Regions from separate parts of the Homo sapiens genome. Here region 2 is linked to region 1. Evidence: fine-mapped expression QTL. Tissue or cell type: prefrontal cortex. Region 1 holds a variant in brackets; the other region holds the start of a gene. All regions are shown on one strand. Distances are from middle to middle.

Region 1 (2,929 bases):
TTTCTCACTTATAAGTGGGAGTTAAACATTGAGTACACCTGAGTACAATAAAGGGAACAACAGAAACCAGAGTCTACTTGAGAGAGGAGGGTTTGAGGAGGGTGAGGATCAAAAACCTACTTATCAGGTACTATGCCTTACCTATGTGACGAAATAATCTGTATAACAAACTCCCACGACATGAAATTTACTTATATAACAAACGTGCACATGTAGCCCTGAAGTGAAAATAAAAGTTAAATATAAATAAAATAAACCAAAAGTTCCACCAACTACTTATCCTGAAATTAAAAGCTCTGACAATACATGCTGGATCTCTGTTGGTGAATACTTTTACTGTCATTCTTATACAATTTACACATCTTGTACAATTTATACATCTTGTTTCACTGTAACACTTTTTTCTCACTCCACTTTTCCTTCACTGATTATTTACTTGTGAAATTGTACTTAACATCCAAAGAGCCTGTATAAATGCCAATTTGCGCCCAGGAAGTCTTCCATGATTTTATCCAGAGGCATTTATTTCTCAGGCTTCTAAACTTCCAAAGGGCTTTATCTCTGTCCCTCTCAGTATACTCATTACTTTTATAAATGTTTCATTGTATTTATTTTCATACTGGCCACTAATTTCTTTAGGTAAAGCATGATCAACTCTCATATTCTTCACACTGTTGTGCATAGTAGGTGCTCAGTAAATTACTAACTGGAGCAATGCTATCATAGCAGAAAAGTCATCATGACAGTAACAGAGTAATATATTTTTTTGAGACTGACTCTCATTCTGTCTCCCAGGCTGCAGTGCAGTGGCATGATCTCAGCTCACTGCAACGTCTGCCTCCCAGGTTCAAGCAATTCTCCTGCCTCAGCCGCACGAGTAGCTGGGATTACAGGCGCCCGCCAAAACGCCCGGCTAATTTTTGTGTTTTTAGTAGAGACAGAGTTTCACCATGTTGGCCAGGCTGGTCTTGAACCCCTGACCTCAAGTGATCTGCCCGCCTTGCCCTCCCAAAGTGCTGGGATTACACGCGTGAACCACTGCGCCCGGGGCCAACAGAGTAATTTTTAAGTGTAAAACACTGGATTAACCTCTTTATACTCCCCAGGGAAAAACTAAAGAATACAAAGTATGAAAATCAATTTCTTTCAATCTTAACTATTCTGGATATATGTCTCCCCAAAATTACCACTAAATAATGTAGGAATCATCAACAATAGGATGAAAAATATTTATTTGATTCAAAGTGAGTATGATAACAATGTTTGCTAATTCTATGATAACTCAAAAACTTAAATGTTCTCTACTTTTTTACAGTTTGGAGAAGATTTTTAAAGCAATTTGTATCTTTAAAGAAAAGATCATCAATTTCTGATGCTGTTCACAACCACAAAGCCTGAGAAGGTGAAGGGAATGCCGTTAAATACCACTGAAGCTTAGAAAAAACGTTTCCAGACCTCATTCATTTCCTCTGTCAGTAA[G/C]GAAATACTGTGTTCAGACAATAAGAAAAGAAACCAGTAATAGAAATTGCTGCAAATTCTGTTTGTGTTGATCCTTCAAGTTCAAACCTTTCATTTCATGGGCTGTAGCTGTTAAGAAGAGAGCTGGGGGAGCCCGATTATTCATTTCTATAATTAAAGAGATACCCAGTCATTGAAATATATGCCCTTCTCTGTGACTGACAGCCGCTATGATTGGATGTTAGCAATGGGCCCCGTGGAAGATGAATTCAGGTAATCTCCATTTTTTTTCCTTCTTCTCTCAGAAAGGCCTCAAATTGACACTAATTTTATGGTCTCAAATCCCAGAGTCCCTTGGATACTGAGAATGGAATGTAAAGAAATTCTCCTTGGTGTCAGTCAGTAACTTTCCCTTTTCTTCAGGTTACAAAAGGCGATTGACAGGAAGAGAAGGTCTGCTCACTGCTACAACAGAGATGAACTTGAAAACTGATTGACAGACATCTCCTCTAGACCTTATTTTTTTCTCATTGTGATGATACCAGTGATGATGAAGAATAGATGATACAAGTTCATAGGAAGATAGGTACCTTTAACTGTCATTGTCAAAGTCAGATGGCACAATGGAGACACACCAACCAAAATAAAGCCAGGTCTCACTGAACAGATTTTTCCTTTTCCTCTTATCCATTCACTTAGAAAATTAAGGACAAGGAATTACAGTACAAAGACCCCTCCCTTGTCTGTATTCTAAGAGCCCAGTCCTTCCCCAGAAAATACAGCATTCCCAACCCTTCACACTACACAGGTTGTAAATAAGCAGTAAATATGTGTTGAGTTAAAGAAACTAAAGATACAGAAAATATATTCTCCTTCAAAAACAAAGAAGAGAAATTAACACGAGTTGACTATTTGCAGTGTTTTAGGCACAGTGAATTATATGGATGGCCAGATAGCGGCCACACACATGTGCACACTGTAAGTGCCAGGGACACACAGAGGTGGCCCCCAGAAAAGAATTAGATGCCACAGGTCTCAGTGCACATGGCTTTGCCCTGCTCAGGTGAGTCTCTCTGCGCCTGGCCAGGTCTGGAGCTTGATTTTGTGTTGCCCTACAGTCCATTTAGACTTCTACCATTATCTGGAAAAACTAGCACAATATGTGTGATATGGTTTGGCTGTGTCCCCACCCAAAATCTCATCTTGAATTGTAATCCATATAATCCCCAGGTGTAAAGGAAGAGACCAGGTATAGGTAATTGAATCATGGGGGTGGTTTTCCCCGTGCTGTTCTCGTGATAGTGAGTGAGTTCTCACGAGATCTGATGGTTTTAAAGTGTTTGGTAGTTCCTCTTGCCTTCATTTTCCCTCCTGCCGCCTTGTAAAGGAAGTGCCTTGCTTCCTCTTTGCTTTTCGCCAGGATTGTAAGTTTCCTGAGGCCTCCCCAGCCATGCGGAACAGTGAGTCAATT
Region 2 (2,929 bases), 43 kb after region 1:
CGGTACTTCGCAATGGAATAAAGGTGAAACGGATGCTGTGATATCACTTACGATATCCATCAATCTTACTATGGCAGACACTATTATTTCCCCCATATTCCCTTGTTTTCTTCTTTTTAAGTAAAAGGCTCTTCAGGTTTTTAGCCATATACATGGCCATTTCACATAGACACTCTATTTTCCAGTCTTCCAGTCTCATTTGCAGTAAGCTCTGGCCATATGGTTAATTTCTAGTCAAAAACATGTCATGTTCAACTTCCAAGGTATGTCCTTAAATAGGGAACATATTGTCCTCATTCTTCTCAGCTCCTGAAGTTTGAATACCAATTTAGTGGCTAAAGCTTGAGATACTATCTTGGAGTGTGTTGCTAATGGTGGAGCAACAAGGAGCCTAGTTCCTGATATCATGGAGCTCATATCTAGCCCTGGAACACTTAGCTGCAGACTTCATTTTCATCAGGGATAGAAATAAAGTTATATTTTAGTCTAGCAACTATTTACTTCAGGTGTTTTGGCATTCATGGAAAAGTCTCATCCTAACTTATACTTAATTATTTTACCAAATACTGTTGCCTACATTATATGATTGTGCTTTAAAAGTCTCATCGTTACAGTATACATTGATTAGGACCAGTATTTGAGAGTGTGCATCTCAAAGTTCTGTATCCATAGTTTAGTAACCACCTGTAGTTTTGTTAGCATGAAAACAACTTCTGACTCTCTTTATGCAAATACCTGTAGGCCATTATCTGCTAAATCTTTCTTAAATATGTGGTATATATTAGCCTACGTTTATTTGTCTATTAATACTTGCAAAAGCCACAGCAAAACATGATGTATATAAGTAGGATGATTTTTTGTTATCAAAACTGAATGATAGCTATAGGAAACCAGTGAGTACCATTAATTCACTCTGTTCAATTCTTTGCACTTACCTTCTTTCAGACTCGTTCATCAGTTTCACTTTAGTTTATCTCAGTTTCTATTTTTGGCACCTGTGAGATATGGATGCTTTTTGTTTGTTTGCTCACCTCTCCCCAACCCTCCCTACTCAGTCCCTCAGGAATACTGAGACTAGAGAAATTCATCTTCCCCTACCATGAAAACATTTTTCTGGGGCCTAACATACCTGATCTTTATCTTCCAAAGTTAGAAAATTCAGTTACTTTGGCGACAGCTTGGGAATGAGGTAGGTTCTCCAAGTTTAGCAGAGTAGAAAACTATCTAAAATAGTTTTGTTCAGGGTGTCCAGACATTTAATAAAACATTTTTTACCCACAGAAAATGTGGTCCCTTAGAGGAGAAGCAAGGTCCTGAGCCAAACTTTATAATGTACGTTCCTAGGAGGGAAAGCGAGGGAAATTCAGTCCACCGCTCTGCCTGCCTGCCTGCCTGCCTGCCTGCCTGAGGAGTTGCAGTGCAGAGTATCATTGCAGCGCTTTTCCAGGGAGTAACGTGCTGCACTGGTTCAGGGCTTTGTCTTTATTCACAACACATTCATGTGCCTCAGCATGGGGGCAGCTGCACTGTTGCCTGCCAGCCTGTCCTCTTTGACTGCCGAATGAACCAAAGGATAACTCTCCATTCGTGAGAGAGAGTGAGCTACAGAGGAAGAAAGACCACGCAAAAGGGAGGGGGAGAGAGGGGGGCGAAGAGGATGTTCTCCGGCTCACTCCTACATTAGGTCTCTGTGCAAAGGCAGAGGCTGTGGGAGCAGCATCAAGCAAGACTTCGGGCAGTGATTCTAACTATTGCCTATGAACACCGTGGCTGGGACGACTTTGACGAGGCAATTTATTACTTACGCATAGAACACTGGCTGTGCTGAAACTGGGAGCGCAAACAGCCCCTTGTTTTCTAATTTAGAGACTTGCATCTTTTCGACACTCAACAGTATCAAGACACTCTGCTACTACAGGTAAGACGCAGTTAAGATTTGTCTATTTGTGACATCATTACACTTTAACACACTTTAAACTATGAATACTTTTTTTATATTGTGCCTGGTCTATGTTGAACTGCCTTTTTCCCTTCATATTAGCCTCTCTTCAAGTAAATAATTTCACTAAGAAAAAACTGCTGTTAAATGAAGGAACCACTACTAAATCTTTGCTAAGAGGAATCTACATAATTGTATTTCCATGAGCTCTGAGTTCACAGTTGGGAACTTGAACTTAAACTGGGATCTGGGATGCATTTCATAATATATATATATATTTTTTTTTTCTAAATGTACTGAATTATTCACTATCATTTGGATAAGCCAAAATTATTCTCTTGCTACAGTGCTGTGCTGTGTATATGTTTAGTGGCTTTTTTTTTTTTTTTAAACCTCATAGTTTGGGGAAACTAATGATGAGGCACATAACTTGTGGAGTTTGATCACATCATTACCATGTGGTGTAATCTACTCAGTCAGAAAGATGTGCTGTTCTAGCCTTTACTGAGAAGGTGTTATCTTGTGTACATACATATATCATCAATAGGTAGCATGAACATGTGAAATATTTGTAAGACTAAGAGAAAATGCAAGGATGGTGATAATTCACATGCTGTATGATATCATTGAGTCTCGAGTTTGCTTTACATAAAAATTACAAAATTACCTTTGTTTTTATAACTGGTCTCCATCTTCACTTGTCAGTTTTTACAAAATAAAATTAGCTTTCAGGTGAGGTCACTCGGAGTTGTTGATATAGCTGGGAAAACTGTAATCACAGAAACATATTAATAATGTGTTGAATGTCTATAGAGATATAGGAGTAATATTATCAAGAGGCTTGTACAATTTTCCTCTGCTCTGTTTTGATAAGAGCATCTCATAGTATTAGTCACTTGTAACTTGGATTGATTCTGCTGTCCCATTCAGGGTCCCAATGACTTGGAAGTAAAATTACATTGTTGTCTGTGATCAAAGCTAAAAGCTAGG

The links. PIP is the estimated chance that this variant, and not a neighbour inherited with it, causes the effect. A credible set is the group of variants that fine-mapping cannot tell apart.
Region 2: it holds the start of LINC03000, and the variant in region 1 is the best candidate, but not a certain one, in a credible set for the expression of LINC03000 in prefrontal cortex (CommonMind, PIP 0.87).

The regions. Positions count from the first base shown.
Region 1 is chr5:164,252,124-164,255,052 of GRCh38, forward strand. No RefSeq gene overlaps it. Among named protein-coding and RNA genes, the nearest start is that of LINC03000, 43 kb to the right of the region's middle. The variant G/C (reference allele first, on the strand shown) is at 1,480.
Region 2 is chr5:164,295,279-164,298,207 of GRCh38, forward strand. LINC03000 (long intergenic non-protein coding RNA 3000) reads left to right here and starts at 1,427. Exons shown (of 5, transcript XR_001742489.2): 1 at 1,427-1,918.